Regions from separate parts of the Homo sapiens genome. Here all the other regions are linked to region 3. Evidence: fine-mapped expression QTL. A gene starts in region 3. Each other region holds a variant in brackets. All regions are shown on one strand. Distances are between the middles of the regions.

Region 1 (6,032 bases), 22 kb before region 3:
CCTGGGTTTTTCAATTCCCTGAACCAATATATTCCCTTTACTGAAGTCAATTTGTGTGGGATTTTTTTTTAACTTAAAATAAAAAAGTACTAATAATTGCTATGTAATTTAAAAAATTAGCATGTGGAAGTAAGCTGTTGTAAGTAGCAGATCCAAAAATAGAGAATCATATGTCAAGGTGAGTGGGGGGGGGGGCATTTATTCATTACCATGTGCCACTCCCTGTTTGCTATAAACTGAATGTTGTTATTTACAGTTCATTTGTCGAACTCCTAACCCCCAATCCTAACCCCTAAGGGATTTTGGGAGGTGACTAGATCATGAGGGTGGATCCCTTGTTTAATGCCCTGATGAAAGAGACCCCAGAGAGCTCCCTCACCCATTCCACCATGTGAGGACACAGTGAGAAGAAGGTCTATGACCCAGGAAGTGGGACCTCACCAGACACCATTTACTAGTGCCTTGATCTTGGACTTCCAGCCTTCCCAACTGTAAGAAATACATTTCCGTTGTTAATAAGCCACCCAGTCTGTGGATTTTAGCCTGAATGGACTAAGGCACTGCTCTAGTGCTAGAGATTCAGTAGGCACCAAAATGGATGTGATCCATGCTCCCGAGTTAACTTCCTGGCGGAGAATGCCACCGTAAACCACTGAGAATGCAGCAGCTCTGCAGAGGCCTGAGCAGAATGATGGGATAGAGTGAGGTCACATGGCTTCTTGAGGTTGCATGGGCAGGGGCCGATGCAATGGGAATGCGCTCATCGACATGTTTGCTAGCAGTCACATTTCCTAGACCCCCTTGTTTGTATGGTTCCAGTTAGAATTAGACAAAGGAAGAACTCATGTGTGATTTGAAGGCAGAAGGACGTGGTGTCCATCATGCTCTTAAGGACTTATAGTCTCCTGCAGTGACAGAGAAATGTGGAGGTGCTCATGAGTCCTGCACACCTTTGCTCTCCTCCACGCAAGTTCAGCTGACCGTCAGCATCCTTCTGACCAAGCTCAACCTCAGGTCTACTGCCAGACATGTGGCCACGGGACACAGAGAGATCATAGCCTCCTATGGACCTGTTTATGAAATTCCCCTTCACACGCACATGGGGTGGCTCATGTGAGGGAGGAAGCAGCAGCCATGGAAAGAGAACAAGTTCAAGATCTGTGTTGGAAGTAGGCTTGGCAGGACTTGCTGGTAGGTTGGATGGAAGATGTGGCTTAAAAGGGGGTCAGGATGTCTCCTAGGCTTTGTCTTAAGCAAGAAAGCAAATGTTTCAGGCCATTTATTGAGATAAGGAGCCTATCTAGGATTGGAAATAAGAGTTCTTCTTTGGCCATTGTGGTAGGTTGAAAAAAAGGACAATATTGTGGTAGATTAGGGAAAAACTGGTCACACACACACATACACAAATGTCTTCAGCAACTCCCAATCATAATCATAAACTTACATTAAAAATGCAAATGCAATGCAAAGATGTTTCTTTTTCTTGAACACTTGAAAGTAAATTTCTGGCCAGATGCTCCAGCACCTGTGAATATTGTACTATTTCTTATAAGCAAGGACCTTCTCTCCCCTACATAATCAAGATCAAAATCAATGTCAAGAAATTAGCATGGGGCCAGGTGCAGTGGCTCACCTCTGTAATCCCAGCACTTTGGGAGGCCGAGGCAGTCAGATCACGAGGTCAGGAGATCGAGACCATCCTGGCTAACATGGTGAAACCCCGTCTCTACTAAAAATACAAAAAAAATTAGCCAGGCATGGTGGCAGGCGCCTGTAGTCCCAGCTACTCGGGAGGCTGAGGCAGGAGAATGGCGTGAACCCGGGAGGCGGAGCTTGCAGTGAGGCAAGATCGCACCACCACTGCACTCCAGCCTGGGCCACAGACAGACTCCGTCTCAAAAAAAATTAACATGGATACAATACTATTTTTTAACCTGCAGTCCTTATTCAAATTTCTCCAGTTGTTCCTCTGATGATCCTTAAACAAAAGAAAAATAATCTTTGTGTGTTCAACATTCACTCCAGGAACACACCATTTTTTTTAGTTTCATGCCTCTCTAGTCTCCATCAATCTGGAAGATGAGTTCTGTTTTGTTTGTCACGATCTTGACATTTTCGAAGAGTTCAGGCCATTGGTTTTGTAGAATGACCCTCAATTTTAGCTTGTCCAACATTTTCTCACAACGAAATTCAGGTGCTGCTCTTTCACAGGAATGCCATGGAGCTGGTCCTCTCACTCTGGCTTCATCTTACCAAGTGGCACGTGATCTCCATCCTCCTGTGTCTGACGATGCCCACTTGGATCACTTGATTAAGGTGGTGTCTGCCAGGCTTTTTTGCTGTGAAGTCACTCTTTTCCCCTCTTTGTAGTTAAAAAGCATTTGTTCATTGTGGTAGTATTAACATTAATTGAGGGCATGCTATGTGTAGAGGGACTTTAAAACTTTGTAAATATCCCGTGCCCCATCAAACTTTCAATTGATTGTTTATCTATCAGATAAACACTATCAGAAAACCACTAGACTAGACTAGTGATTGTCTAGTTTTCAGTGAATTCTGTTAGCTTCATTATTTATTTTGATGTGCAGATTGTCCCTGATCCGGTCACTCAGTGGGAGCCCATTCCATCTGGTTTCTGGTTTTTACATGACCTAATCATTCTTTGAGCACTTCATTACTTCCTGACACAACAGGATGTTACATTCTCATCTCGTCCTTTCTCTTCTTCAGTCCTGGAAGCAGCCATTTCTTCAGGAAACCTAAGTTTCAAGAGATGCTGGTGTAGTGTACTCATTGCTCCCAGGACTTCTCAGTGGACACATTGGTTTTCTCTGGAGAGCCTTGATACAAATGGGACATGGCAGAACTAGAACCTGAATCAAGACTTATTTTACTCTATGCTCAGAGCTCTTTATTTTTCTCAGTGAAAACTGGCTTAAGAGGAAGAGA[C/G]ACATATGTGTATGGATACATACATGTACCCTATTGTCACAGGATACTAGAAATATGTGGATAACCTCACATCTTTATCCTCTTCCTAAATGGTTCTTCCAAAGTCTGGATGGACAACTGTTTCCCCAGCACAATGAATTCAACCCACCAAAGCTTCTCATTATCCCTTTCTTCATCCCTCCTCCTCCAACTCCTCCCCTCCCCCGCCTTCCTCTGTTGCCTATCACAGAGAAGGGCAGAGCCATCCATTCGCTTCTGTAAGCTGAATAGCTGGCATTGTCATCAGAATCCTTCCTTTCTCTCTCCCCATTTCCAATTTGTCAATGTTTTCTATTGATTTTCTCTACTGAACATCTCTTGTATTCATCTCCTCCTCTCCAACCCGGCAACTGCTGACTTGGTCTCTCAACGCCTCCCATCTGTGCTTTGCAATTGTATGCACTTCCTTGCCCATAGGCAAAGTCCTGGTGGCTGAGCACCAGCCACAACACTAAGAAGTCAGCAAGTGAGAGGTGAGTAAAGGACATACATGTATAGTCTGTGGAGCTGTCTCAACAAGGAATGGCACAATCCAAGGCTACATCGATGCTCTAAGGCAGGGAGGCAGAGAAAAAGGATGGGGGTGTTCAGGCAGTGAGGACCAGTCCAGGGAGACGTAATAGAGGAAGGACTCAAAGCAGAAGGCAAGGCACAGAGCCTGGGGTCATTCCTCTGTCCGTAGCCGGAGAGCCTCCACCTTGTCCGGTTTCTTATCTTTCTGTAGTGCAAATCTGTGACTCACTTGCTTAGAACACATCAGTTGTTTACCTTCACCTGCAGGACAAAATCTCAATCCTTGGAATATCCCCCCTGTCTCCCTCTGTGCCTCACTGAGTGCAACTTCCCCTTGTATTACTCACTCCTATAAGATGGAATTACTGATAGTTTCCTGATGACACTGTGTTCTCTCACCTGTGTGCCTGCACACCTGCTCGTCACTGTGCCCACAGTGCCTTGCTCACCTGGCAAAGTCCTACTTCTCTTCCTTCTCCTATGCTTGTGTCACACACTGCACAATTCTCCACTGAAGCATTCATGCCATCGCATCATAACTGTCTGCAGGTCTTGCAGATTTGCAGGAAAGACCATAAGCTCCTTGAGGCCACTGTCTTCACATTGTCTTGTCATTGTCTTCATGCCCCTGCTCCATCCCCATGCCACTAAGTTGTTGCTCAGTACATTTGTTGAATGGATAAACAAATGAATTCATGAACTAGAAGTTGGGAGGAGAGAGTGGTTTAGGACAAGAAGTTGTAGGGGATTTTCTTTAAACTTTTAATGTGGAAAAATATTAGATTTACAGAAGAGTTGCAAAGATAGTATGAGGAGTTCCTGCATACACTTAACCCAGGTTCTTCTAATGTTACTCCCCTTTGGTTATATCTGATATAGCCAGAGAAGTCTTACCAACTAAAGAATTAGCATTAGTAGAGTGATACTACCTAAACTAAAAATTTTATTTAGATTTCACCAGTTCTCTGCCAATGTCCTTTTTCTGTGCCAGGATCTCATCCAGGGAACCACGTTGTACCTAGTTCTCAGGAGCCTAGGTTTCTGCTTAGTCTTCTCCTTAATATTCTCCAGACTGCAGTACTTTCCTTGTCTGTCATGACCTTGACACTTTTGAAGAGTACTGGTCAGGTATTTCACAGAATGTCCCTCCATTTGGGTTTGTAATGATTTCCCTCACGATTAGAATAGGGTTATAGATTCTGGGGGAAGAATGTCAGAGGTGAGGTCCTTTTCTCATTGCATGACTTCAGGGATTATGACATCAACGTAAAAGGTTACTACTTTCCCCTTCCATACTCTGTTCTTTAGAAGTGAATCACTAAATCCAATGAACACTCAAGGGGAAAGGAACTGAGCTCCACCCCTTAGAAATGGGAGTACCTACAATTATTACCTGGAATTCTTCTGTTGGGGATATTTATTTTTGCTATAATCCAGGTAGTCAAGTGAAGCCTATGGACCTAGTCTCAGAATATTTTAAATTTTAATGTATTGATTTTTTGAAATGAAATACATGGGATTATAAAGGAAAACAGTTGCATTGATATACGATTATTAAACTATTTTTTAAAAAAATTTGTGGCATAGGAATTAAGAAGAAATTACTAAGGCAGATAGTGAAGGTACAGGAGTTCTCAGTAAGATTTTCCTTTTTAATGAAAAGCAGCCCCCAAATCATTTTCTAACAAAGAGCAGCCTGTAAAATCCAGATGCAGACATAGACAAACAAGCTAGAGGCTTGCACCAGTGAATGCCAGCAGGAAAAAGCTACCTGAGACTAGACATGTTCAAAATGGCGGCTCCATCTTCCCTTCTCTTTAACAGCCAAGTGTACAGTAAGGGCTTTCTGGTCAAGTGAAAAGCCCATTTGCATAATAAGATTAGAGTGGGGTGGCCAGCCTTCCCCACATACTATGTAAACGTCACACCTGATCGAACCAATCTGTGGGCTCTACATAAATCAGACACCACTTCCTCAAGTCTGCCTATAAAATCCAGAAAACTCCACCGCCAGCTCGTCCTTCCTTTTGGAAGCCCCTCTCTCTCACTAGAGAGAGAGAGAGCTGTTCTCCTTTCTCTTCCTTTTGCCTATGAAACCTCTGCTCCTAAACTCCTTGTGTGTGCCTGTGTCCTAACTTTTCTTGGCATGAGATGACGAACCCCGAGTATTTACCCCAGACAATGACACCGCATCAGTAATACATGTGCTTATTTATCAGTTCTTCAAAACACAAGGTCTGGTAGCATGTGTAAGATGCTTCAGTTGGAAGCTTCGACTGTGATTTCAAAGTGTTGCTCAGCATAAGTGACATCACAGCTGATGCTAATACCACAGTGGGTTGTTGCCTATATTAACAGTGAAACTAGAAAGTGAAGCAAAAATATTCACAGATCTTTTGAAAGAAGCGGCATTGCCACTGCAAATTCTGTGAGACAGGCAAAAAACGGTGAGTTCCCAAAGTGTGAGAGGGGGAAAACTGGCCTCCGAACACACATCCTCACTGGGGAACCTGAAAATCCAGATTACAGAA
Region 2 (6,032 bases), 33 kb after region 3:
TCTTATTCTACGTGTCCTTAAACCCTTTGTGGAACAAGATGGAGTATGAATAAATAAAACATTTCAAATACTGTTGCATGGAGGTCTTTCCAAAGTGTAAGACTATGGGCATAGAATGTGTGTACCCTAAGTAGACTTTCTAGAAAGATTACTGAACCACAGTGATTCTGCCCCGTCCTTTATAATTTATTAGTTTATTTTTTAAATCATTTATTTATTTGTTATTTTGCTCACTTGTTTTACGTATTTATTTACTTTTATCTTACTAAGTTTTCAGTTTATTTATCTTTACATGATTAGTTTGAACATATGAAATTGCCACTTATTAGATCTAAAAGGTTGCATGCCAGCCATTTTATGTGGTTCAATCTAACAGAAATAGTGGCAATTATTGTAGCTTGCTTTATAAATGTTTCTCACACAATCTAAAAACAGGAGATGACCCTTCTGAGTTTTTTCATTCACTGCTATTTTGTTTTATCTCCCCTCATCCTGCGGGGTAGGCAAGGTAAGCTTTATTACCTCATGTCACTCATGGGGCAGGAAGAACTGCAGCAAGGAACCAAGGGAATCTCACCCAACTAGGCTGGCCCCCAGGTACTGTTCTGAGGACCCAGCTCCGCTCTGTGTTCCCAGTGGGAAAAGGAGCCAAACCTGCTACAACTGGCTCCTGTTCCTTCCAGATCTTTTTGGGACCCTGCTGAGCCCTCCCACACTGTCCAATTTGGTATGTAGGTCCATGTGTGCCGTGACAGGATGGTTATTAAGCCTTGCCTACGGCTCCCCTTCCAGGCCCAGTCGCAGCCTCAGTGGCTCCCAGGAAAGGCTTTGGCAACCCACTGAAGCTCAGCCTGCACGGCAGATGCAGATTGTTAGTGGAGTTCAATTCCCCAAAAGCACATTTCACATTTCAAATGACTCTGCAGTCATTTCCTCGATACCTTCATCGTATTTTTTTAATATTGTTTTTGTCTCTTTGAGTAAATGTAGCTATAGCTATCATGAGCTTTTCCCCTCAAGCTATCTTTGAATTGCTTGAGCTTCAATGTGCATTTTTCCAGTGTCTCGGAGAGTGGCGTTCATGATCACCTCGGGTGGTCCTGCCTACTCTCTCTAAGATAGTCAGAGAAACCTCAGCTTTTTACTTTTATGCCCACTAGCCTCCTTAACGTTCATCTCCAGTTGAACCAGACAGAATGGGTTCTCTGTGATGAAACGAGGCAGTTTGAAGCAAGACAGGGCTGCTGCACATAGCCCCTTGACCGTCACGGCAGCACACGTATCACATTCCTCCCACAATGTTTATCCTCAGAGAAGAGGTTGAAGGCATGAATGTGTGCTGGCCAAGGGCCAGTGTCATTTTGTAAAAAGTGCTGGGTTTTAGTCTTAAGCGTACTGAGTTTCAATTCCCTGCATGTCTCTGCTTGTGTGACCCAGGAAAGTTATTTAGCATGGACAGGCCCCGGCATCTCATCTGCATCACTCACTTATGATGACACGGGGGGTGATGCAGTTGAATTTTTTCTGCTGCATTGTGCAGAATACTTGAGCAAAAGGAGCTTAAGCAAAATAAAGCCTGGCTTGTTTTGTCACCTAATAAAATGAGACTAAAGATAGCAGCTATTGGTGCGGTGGCTTAAAGACGTCGAGGTCCAAGTCTCTGCCCTTCTCTTGACCTTCCTCACATGGTCATACCTTCCCTCTTGCTGCAACTCCAAGCTTCACATCCTTCTTTAAGACAGGTCAATACCAGCTGGATCGGTCCCTTTTATCAAGAAAACCTACTGCCTATTTCTCTTTGGACAGAATTGTGTCACATGCTACCCCTAGTGGAAAAAAAATGGTCCCAACTTCTTCTGTAGTAGAGTTAGGAAGAATAGAAGGGAATGGAGAATATCTGTGAGGTTAGCCAGCAAACAGCATCTGCTACAGAAAAAAAAAAAAAAAAAGCAACTAACATCAATTAAGCCTGACACATGGTATGATAAGGGCTCAATAATATTTTTATAATCATTTTCTCTTAGGGTATATTGTTTAGGGTCCTAAACTGAAGTAACCTTGCATTTATTAGTTACATGAAAGCATTTTCTCACCTGTGGTTCACTCACAGAGACAGCTGCTTATCAGCAGAGCAGAAAATCTGCCACCAAAAAAGAGGGTATGTGAGGAAATAGAAAGGGACACACCGTCCTCTCTAGGTGCTGAGTCCAGTTAGGATGTGTGCATTGTCACATAGTGAGGGGGCCTAGCTGCTTATGTCTGCCAGGACAAAGCCAAGATGGTCTTAGACTGTTGTCTCATCTGTGCTATTCAGGTTCATTAGCAGTCATCTTCAAGACCGAAGAAAATAGGTTTAAATTGGTGAAGGATGAATCTGAACTAACTGTAAAACAAATAAATTATTTTTGACAGCAGGAGCACTGGAATCCATTCCTGAAGATGTTAGGGATTTGCAGAAGCTTGGCGTCACCTGGGCCCTTAGAAACCATCCAGTCAAGCCCCACTCAG[C/T]ATAGATGTCCTCTGCGTACCCCCATACAGCCTGTGCATGGTGCCCTCCAGGGGAGATGCCAGCAGTTTTCATTATTTTTAATCTCCATTTGATTCGGGATGGGCACTAACGCAGCTAATAGACTGAGTGGAGGAAGTCTTTCCCCAATTAGCGAGAGGCTGTGGATCTCACCTCCCAAGGTAGCCAACTGTCCATTTCAAGACAGTTCTGATTGAGATAAATTATCTCCTTACACTGTGCACAAGTTGCCTGCCCCGTACTATTCTGGGGCTGATTCTGCCTCCATACACTGAGGCCCAGGCCCAGACTCCTCCCAGCTTTCCAGTACTTTAGATATCTGAAAATACTGATATATTCCAGGTTAAGCATCCTTGTTACCTCCATCATTCCTTTGATGATTTGGCCTCCAGACCACTCCTAGAATAAGTGGCTAAATAGATCCAGCACCATAGATGTGGGTGACTGGAATTCATATTCCCAAAAGCCCAATCTGATGGCCTGTCATCTGTCTTTCTTAAAGATGTCAAGGTCAAAGTCCCTGCCCTTCTCTGCCCTGTGGCATTTGGTCCTATTGATCACTACTCTTCTGGAAACTCCATCACAGTGATTGTCAGGACACCATCCTTCCTGGCCCCTCTCCTACCTCCTGGCTATTCCTTTGTGGTTTCCTTTGCAAGCCCCCCTATGCTATCACCCTTCCAAGTCAGGGACCCCAGGATCCTACCCTTGGCCCTCTTCCCATCCATGGCTTTCGTCAAGAGGCAAAGGGTGTAAGTCTCACTCTGTTGAGTGTGAGATGAAAACGCCCTTCTGCCACTGGACATCTCTATCACAACATCCACAAGTATCATCGACTTAATAAATCAAAATTGGGTCTTCACACCAGTTCATCTACCTGAATTTCCTGTCTTCACAGAGGGTATCTCCACCTATCCAGTCGCCTAAGCCAATGTCCTGGAAGTGACCTGGCTCTCCCTCACCACATCCATAAGATAGTATGCTGCCAGCTCTTTCTCCTTAGCATCTCCTGAATTCATTTTCTTCTAGTTCTCCTCTACTGTCTCCAATCATTTCTTCCAGGTCTTCATGAGTGTCTCTTTGTGTTTTTACTGTACCTCTTACTCTGCTGCTGCCTCAGTCTGGTCCCTTAGCCTTTATTATCTGGACAATCACAGTTCTCCCCTGGTTGAATTCCTGCCTCTTGTACTACCTGCTCCAATCCAGCCTCCACCATACACTGAAGGGATTTTTCTAAAATGCACATCTGTTCTGCTATTTTCCTACTTAACACACTGAAATGACTATTCCTTGTAAGGCTGGTTCTCCAATTACTGAGAAATATAATGGCTAGGAATCACATGAGGACTTTATAAAAAAGCAGCCTCCTGGAGCTTCCTCCCACTCAGAGTAACTGAGGAATCTGTCCCAGAGACCCCCACCACCAACCACACATTGGAGAACAGGGGCCAACAGGGCAAAGTACAGACTTTCCAGCAGGCCCTAGAAGGCCCCCAGGATCTGGGCTCTGTCCAGCTCTCTACCATCCCCTGTTCTCCCCTCACATCCTAAGCATTAACTGCATGCCAGCAGTCCCCAAATGTGCTCCTGCAATTCTATGCCCACATAGTCTGTGACTACAGGCTGCTTTGCCTGACATGCCTCTGTACCCATCCCTGTGGGCCCGACACTGGCCTGCAAGCTGCCTGGAGCCAGGACATTGTCTTGTTTCATCATTATGACCTCAGAACTGACCACATTGCCTGGTACACAGTCAGTGCTTGTTCATTGTGATTGGTCAAATGGATAAACGAATGAATAGCTAACACTACACTTCAAGAGACACTGAAGTGTCATCTATTGAAGGCTTCTTCACTTCCATGCCCACACCTTCCACCAGTGAGACTCTGGTCCCCTCAACATGTGTCTGTCTCTGACATATCACCTAAGACAGTTTATCTTATTTATTTACATGTGTATCACTGTAGGAGACCAGGAGCTCAGTACTGAGCACAGTATACTTAGCACCTTATAGATGCTTAATGCAAGTTTGCTGGATGAACAAATTACTCTTACTTCCATTGTCATGGTGCCAGTAAGTCCGTTTGGGCAGCCTGAGATTTCATCAGGTGTTTTTTGGCATCTGTGTTAGACTGTTTGCTCATTTTGTGTTTGTAAGTGGCTAAAAATCCTTAAATCTTTCTCATAGGAACCAGTTATAAACCAGGTCTCACAATTCTGTTACTTAAGCAGAATTTCCAGCTCTAAGTGGAGGACTTTGAGCTTAACCCTATTAAATTTAATCTAATATATTCAGCAGCCTGTCACAATCTTGTTAAATCTTTATTCCGTCACCCACCTTATTAGGGGGCCCTCCCACTTTAGTCATCAGCAGATTAGTAAGCATGCCATTTAGATGTCATCTAAGTTAATGAACCTGACTGAGCCAGAGTCACATGGCAGAGTCACAGAAACTCCTTCTGAGCTGGCGTCCGATAATCAATAAACTTTGGTTAAAAGTATTCAGCATTCTGGGGATTCACATTAAGTGGTGGAGCCAACCACTTAAGAGTATCTGTCTCTGGGTGGGCAAGGAGCTAGGCTTCCTAGGAGGGCATGACAAGGCACCCTTTCTGCTTATTTCACCCGGATGCTGACTCCTTTTTTGGTTTCCTTGCAAGGTTACCCTGTTGGGATGTTGTTAGTTGGAGGACAGCTACCTCTGAGGTTATTATGGTTTTTTGCAGATTATTGGAAGCGCTGGTGTCATTTCTTGATTTCTCGGATAAGGAGGCCAACACTGCTATGGGACTGTTCACAGACTTGGCTCTGGAAGAAAGGTAATTTTTTTATTTATAGAAATTGACATTTCTTCTTCAGTCTTTGTTGAACTGTCTGATCTTTAAAAATGTGCTGTATTCAGAGAGGCTAGGCCAAGTCTCCAAGTGAGTATTGCAAGATTCACTGAGTAGGAGGGCTGATGCCTCCCAGGGGGCTGCAGCCACCCACTCCCATTCTAGTCACTCTGCATAGAGGCTGACCCGGGCCTCCATGGGTTTGGAAGCAGCAGCATACTTAAAGCAGTGCCTCTCACAGTAGGCAAGCCTCCCAAGTGTCAGGAACCTTCCTCCCTCCTAATCAGTGCCTGGTACATAGGAGCTGCCCAGCAAATTTGCGTTGAATGAACCTGAGCGAGCCAGCGAGCCAGCAAGCAAGAATGAACAGTCAACTGCAGCCTCCTCTGGGGTTGCCAGTGACATTATGAGTAATGACCTCCTTCTGCCCCATGGCTTTGTGTTGTTTTGTTTTGTTTTGTCTAGCTGCTGGGGATGATAGTAAGGGTCTTAGTTTTCATAATTTTTCAGTTGCTTTTTTTTAAAGTGCATCTTGTGTTTTAAATTTCCTCACAAATTTTAGGACACCTTGCTTAGAGATGATAATAGGATGAGAGAGCTCACAGGCAGGCCAGCCAGCTGGCACGGGCCGGGGTATGGAACAGTGGCCATAGAGTGTGGAGATGCGCATG
Region 3 (6,032 bases):
CTAATAGGTGGAGATGTGAGATTTGAACCCAGCAAAATGGCTCCAGAGCCCCAGCTCTTAACCACTTAGCATGTGATGACTATTTGTCAAGTGCACCCCAGGGGCCTTCCGCTGCATCTAGCACACTACAGGCCACTCACACTAGCTGAACAAATGTGTGAGTGAATGGTTAGGTGGTACAGTCAGTTGTGGGCAGATACCTCTGGAACCTAGGAAAGGAGTTTAGTGAAAAGAGTAGTAGGATAGGAAGTAAGTGATTTGGAACTATTGGCCTCAATGTGATAAGAAACACCCTGAGGTTGGGGACCATAGGCATATAGCCTTCATGTATTCAAGGCCTCACAGGCCTAAGAGGAAAATGGGGTGATACTAATGGTGATAACCAAAACATCACTGGTTCTTGTCTCCATCAATTCCCACAGGCTGGAAGGTCACTGTGAAGTACCCTATATCTTTCTGAGGATCCCTATGGTGTGCCTAGCCTGTGCTCATCAACGTCCTTGCTCCTGCCAGGCACCTACACTGTCTGCTACTTCTCCTGAGGCACCTCATTCCCTTGGGACAGCCACTGTGACCATGTCCTGCTGGGATCCCCAGGTCTCCTGCTGCAGTTGATGAGCCAAAAGACTCACTCTGCTGATGCTGTACCCATTCAGCTGCCAAGAGGAGCAGAACATCCGTGGCCCCTTTGTGTTATACTGCATTAGAGGGGTACCCAAGCAGGATGGTATGTGTACCAATGCATCATAGAGACTTCAGCCAAACAGCTCTTCTGTTCTCTACAGGACACAGGCATGCATCCTATGGGGCCTAGGCCACAAGAGAGTCAACAGGCTGTACTTGGAATCAACACTAGAGCTAGCTGGCCATGCCTGGATCCCTCTCCCCTCTGGCGAATTCCATCTCTAGGGGCTCCTTGTTCCCTGCCAAACAGGTTTCCATAAAGCACTCATTTGCCAAGAAGTTCCGGGTGTTTCTGACCGTGAACTTAAGCTCAAGTTTCCCCTAAACCTGCTTTTTTTCCATTGGTAACCCTGCACATAATACTCTGAGATTTTGTTTAGAAAAACAGACTGAAATTTCTTTAGGGCTGTGTGCATGTATTTGGGGCATGAATGAATGTGCCTATTAGCTCATTCTGTTCTAAACCCTATGATTCCCCGGATGTCACGTGCCACCTGTTCCTACTGACTAGGTACCAGGCACTGAAACCACCATTGCAAAATTATAACTGAGATGGTGAAAGGGATCTGACCTAACCGACTCCATCTTGCTTCTCATCTCCAAGCTGTCTTTGTTCATTCCTAGGCATAGGCCAAACTAACTTTGGGGGGAACTTAGTTTATAGTGTAGCTTTGAAACAAAGACAATACCAGCCCTTTCCCAAACAAACCCCCTTCTTGCCCAGGAACTAGACTGCCTTTTCAGGACTAACAAATTAGCCACAAAATTAGAAATTATGGTTTAGGAGTCATGCAGCTAGAGGCTGCAAGATTCTAAACCTCAAATTGCTCCTGGGGATAACATCAACTATTGTAAAACCTAAGATCAGTGCTTAAGATATTTCACAGACACTGCACTCGATGGATCAGCTGGCACCACCCAGATGAATAAACTGGCTCATCTGGTCTTATGACCCCCACCTGGCAACTGACTCAGCACAAGAGGACAGCTTTGACTCCCTGTGAGTTCATCTCCTAGCCTACCAATCAGCACTCCCGACTCACTGACCCCTACCCACCAAATTATCCTTAAAAACTCTGATCCCTGAAAGCTAGGGAGACTGATTTGAGTAATAATAAAACTCCGGTCTCCCTCACAGCCAGCTTTGTGTGAATTACTCTTTCTCTATTGCAATTCCCCTGTCTTGATAAATCGACTCTGTTTAGGCAGTGAGCAAGGTGAACCTATTGGGCGGTTACAGCACTTTAACCATAAACCTTATGAGAAAGTGCCATTTCTCCATTTCACAGGTGAGAAAACTGAGGATTAAAAAGGTTACTCAAATAACTTTCCTAAGGATAAATGTGTGAGTCTTCTAACTCACACATTTATCAATGAACAAAACCGGATTCACAAGTACACTGGAGACTTTACATTTTGGGCAAGGATATTAAGCTAACGGGAGTGAGACAACCCTTCTTCAGTAGAAAAAAGGCGAGCAGCAGGCGCTGCTTTAGTTACCAGCACTTTGCTTCCTCCGTCTCCCCGCGCCAGGCATCGGGCATCCCAACCTCGACTTTGGCCTTCAACTTGGCGCGCTCCGGAGCTAGAGCTCTGCGGTAGCGAATCTGATCGCGTGTCCATGCCCGCCCCCTGTCCCGCCTCCTGGCTTTTGACCCCGTCCTTGGTCCCGCCCCGGGCCCTGGCTCCTGGCCCCGCCCTTGGTCCCGCCCCGGGCCCCTGGCTCCTGGCCCCGCCCCAGCCCAGGCAGGTCACTGCGCCATTTCCTGTCCAAAGCTGGGCGAATCAGGTCGGTGCCGCGGGGTACCCCGGAATCCCCCCTGGGAGCTGGTCCTGCACTGGCCTTCAGAGCCGAGCAGAGGACGCTGCTTTGGGCCCCAGAGCATGGGAAGGTCTTGGCTGCGGTCTGGGACGGCTGCGGTCTGGGACCTGCATGGAGGGCCCGGGACTTGCGGACGCCTGGGAGCGGTTGCTGGGCAACAGTGCGTGCGGCCTGGCCTCTTTGCGCCCGGCGGGCAGCGCGCGTCTGGGGCAGGCTCCGCGCGGGGCTCGGGCACAGGTCCCCGCTGCCGCAGCCCTACCGAGTGAAGCACTGAGCGCGGCGCCGCTTCGCCATCACCTGGCTCTGGCCCTCTCACCCTAGCGTAGGGGGGCACTGGCCAGGCAGTGAGGACCCTGAGATCCATGCCCTGGGAGACAGAGGTTGTCTCCTGTCCATGCACCCGCGCGCCTGCCTTCTAACCTTCATACCGTTGGGCAGATTAATTCACTGGACTAGGCCTCTGTTCCGTGGGAGTTGAAAAGATTTGACCTGGAAGAAACCCTAGCGATTATTCAGTTAAGCCGCAACCCCACCCCCTGTTTTATATAGGTAAGGGTGCTTCACGGTGAGGACTCGTCGCGTGCCTGGTGCTTTACATCAGTCCCCAGAATAGTCCTCGTAGTTTCTCTCTTACTGTTCCCATAGTATGGGTGAGGACTCTGAGGCTCGGAGAGGTTGTGAATTTAGCCAGAATCACACAGCTTGTAACTGGTGGAGATGAGGACACTGAGACTCGATTAAATCACTCGTAGTTTGTTCGTGGCAGATTACGTGTTAGAAGCGTGTTACACTACTATGAAACCTGGCCATAAATGAGAATCACCTGGAAAGTGTTTAAAATCTATATTCGTGTCTGGGCAATGTCCCGGGTTTACTGACTTGAAATCTCGGGCTACGGCTGAGGAAGCTGTATATTTAACAATCTTCCCGATGATTTTTATGATCTGTGGATGAACCACTGAGTACTGCTGGGTACACCACGGGGCCTTCTCGCACAAAAACAACTGTAAAATAATATCTGAGGTACCTAGAGCAGAAGAGACGCTGGTGAGCATGGTAACATTATGTTCTAATCCCTTCAGTCAATTTGTACCCTTTCTTCACTCTTCAGAAACAAGCCAAAGGCAGATTTTAAACAAGTATGGACATTTAGATGCAAATTGCCCCAAGTTTGTTACCTGTCACACATCCACATTTAAGCTTCTGACTAGACCAGCCTGTCATGATCAAAGTCAGGTGTTAGTGTATTTCTCTATCCTTGGCAACCTGTCATCTGCTCTCTTCTCATCTCCATGCCAGGTCCCTAAATCGCCGGGGTTGATGTTGGCTTTGGAAGAACTATTTGCAGAGCGTTTTCTGCACTGGAAGGAGGGCTGGAAGCTTTCTGGAAGCATTGCCGCACGTAAATGAGTGCCTCTTGGCCTAAAACAGCAGTTGGAATGAAAGGGATCACCCTGCTGTTATTCATTGACATAAACAAAACTGTCATAAAAATAATCACTTGGCTCTTAGTTTTAGAAGGCTAATAAGCCTGACCGTTCTGTTTAGTGCTTTATTATTATTAATTTCACCATTATGCTGCATCCCTTAGGGATTCCGGTTCACAATGGATGCTGATAAAGAGAAAGATTTGCAGAAATTTCTTAAAAATGTGGATGAAATCTGTAAGTACTAGTAAATCATAAATTAATTTCTGCTTTAGAGAAGTGGAGTAGATAAATGATTGCTCTAAGTTCCTGGGTGGCTTGACAGGTTTATAACTCTTAGGAAAAAAATGTAATTGAAATTAAAGAGAAGGGTATTGAGAAACAAGTTATAGCCTCAGGGCTGTATTTTCTGGCTGTTAATTGGTATCAGAGAAACTGTTAACATTCTGATAGGAATTCAGGCTGACGGTTTTCTTCCATATTTTGTATCCTTCTATGTGGAATCCAGTCAAAACCAGCTGCTGTTTCCCCATTGACAATGAACCCAGCTGTTCCCTTCAAGGGTCAAGAACCTCATTGATCAGTGTGAGATTCCTCCCGTTTTAGAGTAGAGCCATTTCTGTTTTAGAGCTGCAGAGGCAAAATCAAATGGCTTTCCTTTAGGATCCATCAAATTACATGGATGGTTTATGATCATCATTCCCTTCTCTCTCTCTAGACAAGAAAGTCCTTTCCCAAGTTCAGGCAGGTTGGATCTCAAAGAAATGTACTCTGATCCCACAGATCACATTCAGGAATTTCCAAACCTGTCAGTCCCTGTTCAGGGAGCTTGCTTGAGTATAGAAACAAACAAACCAACAAGCAAACAGACCTTACATAGTAAATACAGGCAATATGCTGAAATTGCTGCTTGTAGCAGATTGTATGGGTTCAAGGAATAAAGTGGTTTTAAAGCTAGCTTGGGTGACATCGTAAATGATACATGAATAATGCTTATCCCTGAATGCTGTTCCATGGAGCTCTGGCCTTGGCCCACTGCCACCTTTCTCTTCAGCTGGTCTAAACATGTAGCTTTACCTGCCACCTGTTTGTTCATGACCCCCACATCTACATGGACACTTAGCCTTCTTTTCTGAGCCTCTGCCTCTATGGTACTGTCATACCTACTGTATCCCACAAATAAACTTAAATGTGTCCAAAATTGAGGCATCATCTCTTTCCCTCCCCTTTGCCCTCCCCCTCCCAAATAAAACCTGCTTCTCCTACCCTCACCTTCATCCTGGTCTCAGTTGGTGACACCACCATCCAGAAATTTACAGGTCATCTGGGACTCCTCCCAACTCATAACCCTGCATCCAATTAGCCATCTAGTTTGGTTGGAGAGCCATCCTCTCCAGCCCTCCCTTTGTTCTGGTTCTTCTCACCCAGACTATGTCAACAACCCCCTGATTGTTTTTCCTGTCTCCAGGCTTATACTTCCCACAGAGTAATGTATCTAAAATGCAAATCTGACCCAGACACTTCTCTGCTTGGATTCCTTTTGCAGTCATAATAAATCCCAAGCTCTCATCAGGACTTAAGTCCTCCCATGACCTTGTCCTTACCTCTCTCATATCTCCCTACCTCACGCTTGAGCAGCAATAAACTGCTGATACTTCGCCACACATACTCTGTGTTTCACACTCTGCACTGGATCTTTGCCATTCCCACTGCCTCTTCATCTTTTTTTTTAACCTGGCTAACTTATGCATACTCAAAGTTCATTCAGGTATCATGTATACCAGTGCTGTCCAATAGAGCTTTCTGTGATGATGAAAATGTTCCATAATCCTCACTGTCCACTATGGTAGCAACTAGCCACATGATTATTGAGCATTTGAAATATGGCTTATAACTCCACCCTGTGGTCTAGTGCTTAGGGTTCTGTGTGTTTGTGGCTGCAGCCCAGGTTTGAAATGCGGCTTGTTTCAATTAATTTAAATTTATGTAGCCACATGTGTATAGATTCTGTACATTTACTTCTTGGGCTCTTGCTATGTGTTGAGTGTTGGTAAGGCCTAGAGAATACAGTCAAAGAATTATTCTTTTCATGGTATTAA
Region 4 (5,888 bases), 46 kb after region 3:
TAACTTGTTCACTCATGCCAACAGCAGCAGAAGACCTGTGGCAGAGTGCTAGCAGGTGTCAGGGTGCCTGCCTCCCTGCGGGTGTTTGCCACAATGGCAGAGGCAACGCAGCTGGGGGAGAGGGTCCCTGCTGATGACTGTGTGTGTGGTCATGCTGAAGATTGTGCCTTCTCTGTGCCTCACAAGCAGAGGAGGTTGCTCCTAGGGGGAGAAGGATCTGCTATACTCTATGCCATGCTAGCACAAGGGCAAGGGGAAGGTGCTGGTAGGGGTGGGGCTAGCTGTGCCCATCAAGACTCCATCTGCAATGGTGATCAGTGGGAAGAGGAGGGGCAGGACTGCACTCCCGTGCTCTGGCAGGGCAAGGAAAGCAAAACCTGCCTGATCAGACACTCACCAGCAAAGTGATGTGGGGAGTTGCCCTGGGCCCAGGGGAAGCTGCAGTGTGGGGAGGGAGCATGTGGGCTGGTGCATGGTGATGGGGTACTCTGCTGGTGCTCTCCACTGGTCAGGCATGGTCTGCCAGTGCAGAAGCTATGGTGTGGGCCCCCAGAGCCCCCAAGACTGCTCAGCAAGCAGGTGTGGCCTGGCTGGGGCCCCAGGAGAGGCCAGCAGAGCAAGGGGTCCTCAAGTTGGACTGGCCCTGTTTGATGGGCAAGACCACCCTGCAGAGTTCAGGTCTGATGATTCCCCGAGGGCTAAAGTCTCCTGTGGGAGCAAGTTGAGCCTAGTGGGGATGGCTGTCCCTGGCCATTCTCCACTACAGACACTTCTACGCCCAACCCTCTGGGCTCCACATCAACTGGCTTGCCACCCCTACCACTTCTCTAAGCAGCTCTCCCTGACAACTCGATGAGTGTCTGTGCTGGTCAAGGGGATTTCTCCTGCCAGGGTTCCAGAGGCCTATGATGAGATCAGGTTGCTCTTTGCCAGTTCAACTCACCCATTCCCCAAGAGCCTTTGGGGACCAAGAACAAGCCTTGGTACATAGGCTTGCATGCAGCATTCCCAGTTACTCCCTTTCTGCCCTGCTTCTGCATCTTCCCTTCATCTACTCTCAGTGCCTTCCCTTTGAAGATCTATTAGGAGCATGTCAGTCATCTCTGTCCCTCAGTGGGAGCTGTTCCACCTGGCTGTATCTAGTTAGCCATCTTGCCTGATCCTGATTTGAAGGATTTTTCTGGTGGAGTTGAATGATCACCCGTCTCAGCAGCTGACTCTTCACTTTAAACCCAGGACCAACCTCAGCCATAGTCCCATGGCAGAGGCACCAGAGACTCCTTCCAAGTCTCCTGGACCAACACTAACTCATAGAACTGGTCTCTGATCCTCCACCATCATTTAGGTTCATGACATTGGCAATTTAGGGAGTGTGGGGAACTCTGAGACCCTTGTCCAAGGGAAAAGATGACCATAAAAAGCTGTAAGGCAAAAAGGTCATTGGTTACCTTGTTTTGTTTCCCAAGGCCAGGTGTGAGGAGGATGTGGACCTGTTCAGAGAGGTTATCTACACACTCCTGGGACTCATGATGAACCTGTGTCTTCAGGCTCCCTTTGTCTCTGAGGTATGGCATTCTTGTCTCCCTGCCTGGAGCCCTGGGACAACCTGTACACATTCTGTGGCATAAAACCATTCTCATGTTCACGAAGAGACAGAAGCATGTACACTCACACACTGGCCGTGGAATGGGAAAAGGCTGGAGGGATGCGCTCTCCCTTTGCTCTGCTGAGGGATGGATGGATCACCACTCAGTCATGTATTCACTCAGAAAACAGACTGGGTATCCAAGGTGTGCTGAGCAGAGTATGAGGTGCTGCATTTACAAAGTCAAATAAAAGGCGGTTCCTGCTATCAGGGTAATGCCCTGGAGTTAGGGGAGACAGACATGGGGAGGAATAAAAGCAGTAAAAGATGGTGTTGTGAGGGAACCTGGGCATAGTGTGGTGGTGCTAAAAAGGAGACGGTGCTCAGAAGAAGCTCCGCTGAGAATTCAGATTGTCAGAAAATTAAAATCTCCTGCTGGCCTCTCCCCATTGTTGTAGGTTTGGGCTGTGGAGGTGAGCAGAAGGTGCCTGTCTTTACTAAACAGCCAGGATGGAGGAATCCTGACAGTAAGTTTCTCCCAGGGAAATCCAGAAGCAGCTTCCATTGTTCTTGTTTTGTTTTGTTTTGTTTTGTTTTATTATCAGTGTAATCTTTTTGAAGTTGCCACCTTTGAGAATCTGCTGACTCTGAGATATGGTGTGGATATACTATTCAGAATAATGTACACAAGCACATAAATACCAGGTTTTGTCTACAGTTTCAGAGATTTGGTGACCTCCTTGCTGTGTCCGTCATCTGTGGATCCCCTAGAGTCCAGGAACCCAACTTAAGAATCCCCCTTCCGTATGGTCTGAAATTTAACCAGCTTAGATGATATAATCGATCCGATCTGTCCTATTTCAAAATATCCTGTGCAAATTGGACAGATCAAGTGTCCAACTTATTTAGAATCCCTTTTTTCCATAAGAAAAAAAAAAAGCCAAGCCCATATTTTAAGCCAGTGATCCTAGAGGTTGTTTGTGCATAATAGTTTTACCCTCTTTTTAAAATATATGCTGAAATGGCTTTCTCAATTCTGTGTCTGACATTTGAATAAGAAAACTGAGAAAGGCCTATATGTTAGCACAGTGCATCAGGAGAAGAATATTAGTATGATTCAAGAGGCTATTTGCCATCACCCTAGAACGTATTCTTCACTCACATTAAGTGATCACCCGTTTTTCTCCCTGTCAGGGCAGGACCCTAATGGCTAGGGAAGCAATTAGGGCCACATCTAGGGTGGGTCTGGGAAACCAGCCTTTCAAGGGTTGCAGACTGAGGACTGCCTCCACAGTTTAAAAAATGTTCTGAGTAGATCCAACATACCCTGTTTGGGGGTAGCACTCTTTAAACGTCCCCAAAGTCAATTCAGACAGGATAGGGCAAAGGTTTTGTGCGTGTGCATTTTCACAGACGGGGCATCGTAGCTTTCATCAGATCCTCAAAAGAGGTCTATGACCCCCAAAGTGGTAAGCACCACCGTTTCCGGATGGTCCAGACCTAAAGGTGAGCCTACACTAGTGCCTGAGTAAACCTTTAGGAGAGCTCTTGGGCCAGATTTCCCCAGCATTCCTTGTGTGCCACGTTGGGTGCTTCCCAGCTTGCTGAGCAGAGCAGCAGCTTCACCATGGGCATCTGGTCCTTGTCTAGCACAGTCTCCACTGTCTTGGGCCTGAAAGGGGATCCGTGGTGTCAACTATAGCAAAATTCTAGGATCTTTAGGAAGCAGATTAGGGAAACAAGATTGATAATACACAAGTTTATCTTTTCTCCCTCTGGAGACCTCATTAAAATGAGATTAAAGCCATTGGGGGGGAACAAAAAAAGTAGAGACCTACGTTGACAGTGAACAGGCAATGGTTACCAATAGGTAAGTAATTTTAACAAGTTTCCTGAAGATGGAGAACAGCTGCAAGGGTGGTAATTAATGAGGCAGGGCTGAGGAAACCTTTGTATGGAGTACAAATGGAGGAACACGTAGCTGGGCAGTAGCAGGTTTGCCTTATAATACCCTGGAGAGGATGAAGATTTCAAAACTCCCGATACAACAGAGAGCAGAAGTACAAGGCAGTGGAGCTGCGTTTGCTGGCAGGCATCTATCCTCCAGGCATAAAATCAGAACACTTTTATCTCTAAAGAACTGAAAAACTGGAGAAAACATTTTTCTTTCTAGTATACGGGGGTGCCACCTCTATATCTTTCCATACTTCTGATAAAC[T/G]TCCCATAAACATAGCATGCCCAAACATATTTTCTTGCTTTTTTCATACATGTGATTGGGCAGGTAAAGGGTCAACCAGACATTGCAGGAAAGCTACACACATAAATAGGAAAACCAAGATAAACATAAAAATTGATCCAAAAGAAATAGAGATGATATAGGAAACAGAAGAAAAAAATAGTAACTATCATTTGTATCCTGAGAAAGATTTAAGATAGTTATATCCATAAAAGAGTAACAGCTTGGCATTTATTTAAAAAAAAAAAAAAAGAAAGAAGAGCCGGGAAATAAAGTAAATGAACTATCCCAGAAACTAGAACAAAAGACAAAGATTCGAAAAGATAAAGATAAATGACACAGAAGACCAATCCAGGAAATCAAACATCTCCTTATAAAGGGCCTGCTGATATCAGAGCTCTGGGAGGAATCACAAGGGAGAACTTCCTTTCTCAGAGTGGAACTGGTTGATCCTGTGTGAAGCTGAAATAATATGGGCCTCTGGGTGGCAAGGGGCTATGATTACAGCTCCTTGACAGCTTTATTAAAAAGAACAGTGCTTTCTATTATTTGGCCATCATATTTTTTATATTTTGCTTCCAATATAATGATTGCTTTTGCCTCACCAAACTCCCCGTTAGCTTTTAAAGGTTGTCAGCATTTCTGAAAAGGACATTTAATTATCCTCTTTCTGCTGTACTCAGAGAGCTGCTGGTGTTCTGAGCCGGACCCTTTCTTCCTCTCTGAAAATTGTTGAGGAGGCCTTGCGAGCAGGAGTGGTAAAGAAAATGATGAAATTCCTGAAGGTAAGATCACTTTATTGGTTACAACCCCTGAAATGTACAGAAGTCTCCTATTTTATTCGGGGAACAGAATTAAGGTGGGCTTTGTTTGGTTAATGTGCTGCCATTTCTTCCTTGCTAGATTTTAAACTTCTTGGATAGGGATTTGCTTCTGCCTGTCTACCCAGACCATACTCTGAACATCAACAACAGATTGTTGAATAAATAAGAAAATTGTTCATTAGATACATCTATAAAACCTGCTTACCCCTCAAGCCTGACTTAAAAATATATGGCCACTGTTCTTGATAAAAATGATCTGAGTGGCTTTCTGTAACGTTTCTCAGGCACATTGTTCTGCTCAGGTTTTGCTACTCATGATGCTTTATACAGTTATCTGGAGAGTGTTGGATGGAACTCCATCTATGAGACATGTAGCCTGCAGAATTACCATGTGACCAAAGGATGTTGGGATTTCCCTGTGAGATGAGTGTGGTGAATCTAAGCAAGCCAGTAGAGCAGTTATCTGGATTCACCTGCAAGGGCGAAGGGGATTAATACACTAGGCTGCCATCTCAGAATCCCACCTATGATGTGTGTGCCCATGAGGTCCATACACCCATGTTAGTGTGGTGACACATGGCTTTTATTCATAAAGCATCAGGCTGAGTGGCGCAGGGAAGCATGCTCTGCGGGCTGCTGCTAGGGCAGGGGTGACACTGAGGGGGCAGCACAGGGGGTCTGAGTTTAGATTGCCACTTGAACAATGACTGTCATTCATTATAACTTTTGCAAACCCACCAAAAGCTCCTGATGGCATGCATACCCATGCATCACACGTGCATACGTGCACACATGCCTTTTAAAGACCCCACATGGGTGATTGCAAGGGCTGTGTTTGACAGTTGTCATCTCTTAAAATGATGTAGGTTCCTGAAGTTCCTCATGCAGGACTGTCAGCCTGACAGCCTTAGCAAGTCAGTCCTCGTTCTCAAATGGGAAAATGACATGGGAGGGCCTTTTCCTCCCTTTTTGGTAGATCTGCCATTCATCAGCATCATTCTCTTCTCAGCCACTTGCTCATAAAGCCTTCCGGAGGCAATTACTCAGGTGTACATGACAGGCCTACATTCCTGTCAGGGGTGTGGGCTGGGTTAGAGAGGATGCGGGTGACACTCTGTTCCAGCAGGGACCATGCCTGCCCACCAGGAAGCACATGCCGTTCTCAGTAGAATTCTCTTTTCAGAGTTTAGGAAGCCACTAGCGCTATAATAACTGCTTGCTGTGGTTTGTGGTCAAGAGCAAT
Region 5 (6,032 bases), 54 kb after region 3:
GTTTCCACCCAGAGTGATAGGACTGACGTTCTCAGCCAGCTTCCATCTGAGAGGGTGTTGGCTCTGGGCTCCAGAAGCCTGAACCGTGGCACTTATGCCCTGGGTTGTTTGTTTTGATTGTGACAGATTTGCTGCTCAACTGAGAAAGCTTCATGGCCTAGAAATTCTCAACTCTACGATGAAATACATCAGTGATTCTTGAGAGAGACAGGGTTTGTGTGCATTTGGGGAACACACAGATGCACACCGTGTGTTGTTCCTATGCTAATAAAGACCTTTGATGTATCCACTTCAGAATCAAGTACTCATTTTTAGAGTGTTTGCATTTCAGGTTTTCACGGGTAACAAGAGAGTGGGCATTAGGCTGGCTGCTGTGGTGGGCTCTGTGCACTGGCTTACTCGACTTCCATTGTACCCTCCTTTGAATGTTCTTTCCTGTTCTGTAGAAGCTAGAAACCATCTCACAAAAAGCCACATTGCCCAGACTCCCTTGTAGCAACGATTCTAGATGGGAACTAGTGGCCAATCTAATGCCACTTCCTACCCCTTTTGCTATTTTCTGCTGGCAATATGCTAGAAACATCAGATTTGTTGGTAGCAGCATTTCAGCTCCGTTTTTCCAGCTGTGGAGTGCTGAGAGAGAGTTGCATTGGCATCATTGGTGGCCTGCAGCTGACTCCTGGCCTGCAGCCACTGCATGTGCCGTTAAATTCAGTGGGGTGAGTGGTAGGTGGTGTCTCCCCTGTTAGGAGAACTCTGCGTGAATCATTCTGGGAATCATTCCTGGGGGTCCCTCTGGCACCCTCCTCCAGCCCATCTGGTGGTGCTATAGGCACCCTGTTCCATGGGTTAGATTGTTCTCTGCTAAAGGTGCCAAAGCACAGGCTTCTCTTTCTACAGTGAACCCTGACTGATGCAAATGTGTTGATTTCCCTAACCCACCTTGTACTCTCACCCCATCCCCAGAGGCAACGCTCCCTTCCAGTTGCCCCAGGGTCACTCTAAACCAGGGTCACCTGTGGACTGCAAGTCCCTAAGTGAGAAGTCCAATAAGTGGCATTATCTCTGGCTCCTTACAATCACAGAATCATTTTAGAGTAGGAGGCAGGGTCTTCATGGTACAGTGAATGTCAGGAGTCCCAGACCAAAGTTCCAAAGACTTTTGGTCGTACCCTGCTACCTGCCCTGCCAGCCATGTGACTTTGGGCAAGTTGCTTAACCTCTCTGAGCTTTGGCTACTGCTTCTGGAAACACTAATACCTGCCCAACCTACCTCCTCCATTGTTGTAAAGGTTAAATGAAGTTTTGGAGGTGAAGGCACTTTGGGAATTATAAAGTACTACGCAAATATAAGAGATTACCAGACTCTATCTTGAGATTGAGGGTGTCAACTATGACGTCATTTGGGTTAAGTTTGAAGGGTCTGGGAAAGGATGAAGCTCATGTCCTTTAAGGAATCAAGCTGGCCATTCTCTGAAGCATGTAGGAAAGGAAATCCTCCTCCTCCAGGGAGATGTTATTCAACACACCCAAAGAAAGTGTTCTTCACAGGTAAGGCAGCTGTTGGCTTAAATTAAGAACTTCGTTTCTGAAACGGAGATAAATAATTGGCATTTGGTGACGGGGGTGGGCGGTGGAAGAAAATCAATGGCCTGAGCCCCTCATTCAGATTGATGTACTGCGCATGGCTGGAGGGAGCTCACTGGGGCACTCTGTGGTGGCGCCCTGGGTGGCAAGCAAGTGACAGGCCACTAGCCAGGACCTGCCCATCAGTCCTATCATGCAAACAAACACCCTTCAAGAGGCTACTGAATTGCAAAGGGAGAACGGCTCGATGCTAATCAGAGCACAAAGAAGAAAATTAGAGGGTGCAAAAGTTGCTGTTTTCACAGAATTCCGTGGAGCTTTGAAAACGGAAAGGCTGTTTGTGTTCATAACCACCAGCCCTGTCTCCTTTGAAGTTCAGGCCCCGCCTTCCCCTGCTATGGCTGCCCTCCTTCTTGGCTCTTGAAAATGGCTATGATAGGTGTATTCTCTTCCCCAAAGAGTGGGGAATGTCAAATTACGTTATTATGTTTATTGTTCCAGAGTGCCTGCCGAGAGCAGTCATCTCCAATTTGGAAGAGAGTCTGCTGCACCTGAAGCTCTGTCTCCTCGCAGGTGGGAAGAGATGTTTCACATGCTAGTATTCTCCCTCTCCAGTGTGGATCCACCCCCGCCACCGCCCCAAACTTGTTACCCCTAACACATGCTACCATGCAGACCTTCCAGGCAGCATGGAAAATACCAGCGCCATCTTTCAGAAGGCCTCATCTCCACTTGCCAGGAGCCCCGACACCACCCTTGGAGACACGGCTTGTTCCAGGTAATCAGAGTCTTCTGGTTCAACAAGCAGAGGAGCTGGGATTTTCCATCCTAAAGAGGATGTGGCCGGGATGGAACTCCATCACCATCCTGAAGCCACAGCAGAGGTGGCAGGTAACAGACAGTCCAGAGCTGCTCACTGTCTTCATACATGACGTGAGGACGGTGGTTCCAGTGCGCCGCAAGGTGGGACTGAGGTTCAGAGTTGAGAGGAAACAATAGGAAGGGGCTGAGATGCTGCAACAGGTCACGGGCTGCTATTGTAAACACTTTTTTAAGGATAGGTTCAAATAAGAGCTTCTTGGCTTGGAGAACTGAGGGGAAGTATGACTAAGAAGTATTAGGTTGGTGCAAAACTAATTGCAGTTTTTGCCATTAAAAGTAATGACAAAAACTGCAATTTCTTTTGCACTAACCTAATATTCTGAGGACAAGAAGACATTTAATACCACATGACTTTTTTTAAGTAAGAGGTCTCATTTTCTAAATAACTTGAAAATAGAGGCTCTCCAAGGGTTCCGTTA[C/A]AGGAGAGAATAATCAGAGGTGAAGAAAACCCATTTAGAGCTGACTCCCTTTCCCAGGGAATGAGCTTTTGGTCCTCATAGACTGGCATCCTGCAGACACGCAGAGAGAAAGAATAAAGCCTGCCTGTGCATTGTTTGTTTGTTTGTTTGTTTGTTTTGAAACAGAGCCTCACTTTATCGGCCAGGCTGGAGTGCAGTGGTGTGATCTCAGCTCACTGCAACCTCTGCCTCCCAGGTTCAAGTGATTCTCATGTCTCAGCTTCCCATAGCTGGGATTACAGGCATGCGTCCGTATCCCAAATTTTCATATTTTTATGAAATATGGTGTTTCACCATGTTGACCAGGCTGGTCTCGAACTCCTGACCTCAAGTGATCCACCTGCCTCAGCCTCCCAAAGTGCTGGGATTACAGATGCGAGCCACCATGCCCGCCCCCCCACCCCCCGTGCATTGTGCCTTTGCTCTGCACTAGGCACCCTATCAAAACTTGAAGATCCTGCCCTAACATAAGCCTCATAACGACTGTGAGGTGGGTATTATCTCCACTTTACAGGTAAATAAGATAAAAACAGAATAGTACTTTCCCACCCAGGATCACATAGCCAGGAAGCAGGGGAGTCAGAATTTGACCCCAAGCTGTGTTCTTAACTCTTCCTGCATGTAAAACATTCCTCTCCTTACTAAGTGTGACCTGCAGAAAAGTCACCACATTTCTCAGAGCCCCAGTTTCCTCTCTATAAAATGGGAGCATCAACACCTACCTCTCCTTCTGTGGTTTGGATATAATATACATGAAGTACCTAGCATAGGTGACTGACAGATAGAAAGTATTTACTTAATGGCGACTCTTTTTGAGAACAGAAATGACCATGAGCCCATTATCTGCCCCCTCCCACCCTCACGGATCTGCTTATCTTCCTTGGTCCTCCGTCTCACTGAAGGCAAGCATGTATTTGGCTCTGTTTACCTTTCCCTCTCTCCTGTGACTGGTGGCAAACATGAAGATCCCCCAAGAGCCAGCTGCCAGCCAGAAGCCTGCCTTCTTACATGACCCCATGGCAGCAGGGCCTGAGAGCACTGGTCTTGGGTGGGATGGGGTTCAGAGCAACTCAGGGCTCAGGGATAGGGTAGCAGCGCTCCTTGTCAGGGCCTGGGGCCAGGGGTGCATGGGCATCAACAGGACCCAGTGTGAAGTGGAAGGTGCTAGGATCAATGCTCTAAAATCCTCTTTGCAAACAGATACTCCTCTGTTACTTGCAGTTTGTCCTCAGTTTATAATCAGGAAAACCTGTTGATTGCAATGACTGTAGCTCCAATCATATATTCATCAGGATGTCATTAGTTCTTTTCTCCTAAAGCCCCAGAGCTGCATCCCCCTACCCTCCCTGATGCCCTAGAAAGAGGAGTGCTAGCCCAGCGGGACATCCAGTTGCCCACCACCTCCTCCAGCAGCTCCCGGCCCTGTGGGTGGCCACATGCCAGCCAAGCACTGGGCTTCTGTGACCTGAAGCTGCTGGATGACTTATTTCCTTTTAATAAGACTCCTAATTTGATCTCAATTTCAAAAAGGCAAAATGATGAAGGAGTTCTCCCTGGAGACATTCTGCCCTGTGGTCTGATTTTGCCCTGGGGCTGGATCAGGCTTTCTTGGCTGCTCTGAGGCTCAGCCCTGGCTTAGGTAGGAGGGAGCCTTAGGGTGCTGGCAAAGCAGGGAACAGTGGGCTGCCGATTACCTCTGCCAGCCACCCCAGCCTCAGATCTCCCCAGTTCTGGAGCAGGGCTCCTGTCACCAGCGGGTTGGAAGGAACTGCTTTAAATGAGGGTGGCTGCCTGCCAGATGTGCTGATTCAGCTCAGCCTGAGCATCACTCCATTGTCACATCTGTCCCCAACTTTATGTTTGGGCTTCTTATCTTCAGCAGCTCTGGATGCTCATTTAGATCCCTCAACTCCCCTCGGGCAACAAGCACACACATACACACACCCCCACACACACGGAATTCATCTCGCTGCTGCTGGGAGATGAATTTGCACATTAAAATAGGTGAGTTAACGTGCAAGGTGATTTACACTAGATCAAAGGCACAGCAAGATAGTGAGAATTATTGGAACAAGAGGCTGAAGAAAAGGCTCCTAGAATGTCCAAGCTGAAAAGTATTCAGGGATCATCTAATCCTCTACAGTCATCCCTTTGTATCCACCAGGGATTGATACCACAGATACCAAAGCCCTGGGATGCTCAGGTCCCCTATATGAAATGCATCATATTTGCATATAACCTACATACATTCTCATATACTTTAAATCATCTCTAGATTGCTTATAATACCTAACACAATGTAAATTCTATGTAAATAGTGGATATACTGTATTTCTTAAAATTTGTATTATTTTTTATTGTTGGAGTGTTATTTTTATTGTTTTTTCCCCAAATATTTTTGATCTGCAGTTGGTTGAATCTGCAAATTTGGAACCCGAGGGTACAGAGGGCTGACTGTATCTGCTTTGTTGGAGTCCATCTGATTCATTGTCTAAATACAATTAATTGCTCCAAAATGGCTAGTCCATGCCCCCTTATTTTATAAATAAGGAATCTGAGACTCAGAAAGGCCAAGTGAAGTATCTTCAATGTTCTTACCTTTGTTCAAGAACCCTCTGAACTAATGGTCCAGAGTGGGGTAGGGACTCCAACAAGACCCGGAGAGGCAGGAAGCTCAGTGGTGGGAGTGCAGGCTCAAAGTCCTCCTCCACCTTGCTTTAAATTTCATAACCTCGCTTTAAGTTTTAAGTTTCATAACCTTAGTGAGTGGCTTAGCCCCTCGATTGCCTTGTCTGTAAAAGGCAATAGGGGAGATATGATACCCACTTCTTAGGTTTGTTGTGGGGATTAAATGAGATGATTTCTATAAAGCTCTCATCACCGTACTTGGCACATGGAAGCCCTGAGGAGATGGGCACTCCTGTTGTGGTCATGTTGGTTGAGCATACTTCCATAGATGGCCCCACCCGGCCATCCCTATATGCTCTTTTCTGGGGTTCTTAAATGTGAGGATTTTTATCAGGGTTGGAAGGGTTTCTATGTGACTCTACCCTAAAGGTGGGGGATAAAGAAGTAGGCCTCCAAATGGCAGGCTGAGCTGGCAAG

Evidence for each region. PIP is the estimated chance that this variant, and not a neighbour inherited with it, causes the effect. A credible set is the group of variants that fine-mapping cannot tell apart.
Region 1: its variant is the best candidate, but not a certain one, in a credible set for the expression of TTC12 in whole blood (TOPMed, PIP 0.84).
Region 2: its variant is the best candidate, but not a certain one, in a credible set for the expression of TTC12 in NK cells (Schmiedel 2018, PIP 0.71).
Region 4: its variant is the best candidate, but not a certain one, in a credible set for the expression of TTC12 in whole blood (Lepik 2017, PIP 0.77).
Region 5: its variant is the best candidate, but not a certain one, in a credible set for the expression of TTC12 in unexposed skin (GTEx, PIP 0.52).

Annotation. Positions count from the first base shown.
Region 1 is chr11:113,290,374-113,296,405 of GRCh38, forward strand. The region is part of intron 1 of TTC12-DT (TTC12 divergent transcript); the gene reads right to left. Among named protein-coding and RNA genes, the nearest start is that of NCAM1-AS1, 19 kb to the left of the region's middle. The variant C/G (reference allele first, on the strand shown) is at 2,950.
Region 2 is chr11:113,344,820-113,350,851 of GRCh38, forward strand. It overlaps TTC12 (tetratricopeptide repeat domain 12), which reads left to right. Exons shown (of 22, transcript NM_017868.4): 14 at 5,254-5,346. Among named protein-coding and RNA genes, the nearest start is that of TTC12, 33 kb to the left of the region's middle. RefSeq lists an enhancer at 1-351. The variant C/T (reference allele first, on the strand shown) is at 2,509.
Region 3 is chr11:113,312,146-113,318,177 of GRCh38, forward strand. TTC12 (tetratricopeptide repeat domain 12) reads left to right here and starts at 2,438. Exons shown (of 22, transcript NM_017868.4): 1 at 2,438-2,473; 2 at 4,098-4,170. The coding sequence starts at 4,113. TTC12-DT (TTC12 divergent transcript) reads right to left here and starts at 2,311. Exons shown (of 5, transcript NR_199709.1): 1 at 2,185-2,311. RefSeq lists silencers at 2,249-2,498, 2,522-2,816, 2,709-2,808.
Region 4 is chr11:113,357,897-113,363,784 of GRCh38, forward strand. TTC12 (tetratricopeptide repeat domain 12) reads left to right here. Exons shown (of 22, transcript NM_017868.4): 17 at 1,467-1,565; 18 at 2,044-2,112; 19 at 4,505-4,606. Among named protein-coding and RNA genes, the nearest start is that of ANKK1, 27 kb to the right of the region's middle. The variant T/G (reference allele first, on the strand shown) is at 3,804.
Region 5 is chr11:113,366,099-113,372,130 of GRCh38, forward strand. TTC12 (tetratricopeptide repeat domain 12) reads left to right here. Exons shown (of 22, transcript NM_017868.4): 22 at 127-289. The coding sequence ends at 202. Among named protein-coding and RNA genes, the nearest start is that of ANKK1, 19 kb to the right of the region's middle. The variant C/A (reference allele first, on the strand shown) is at 2,889.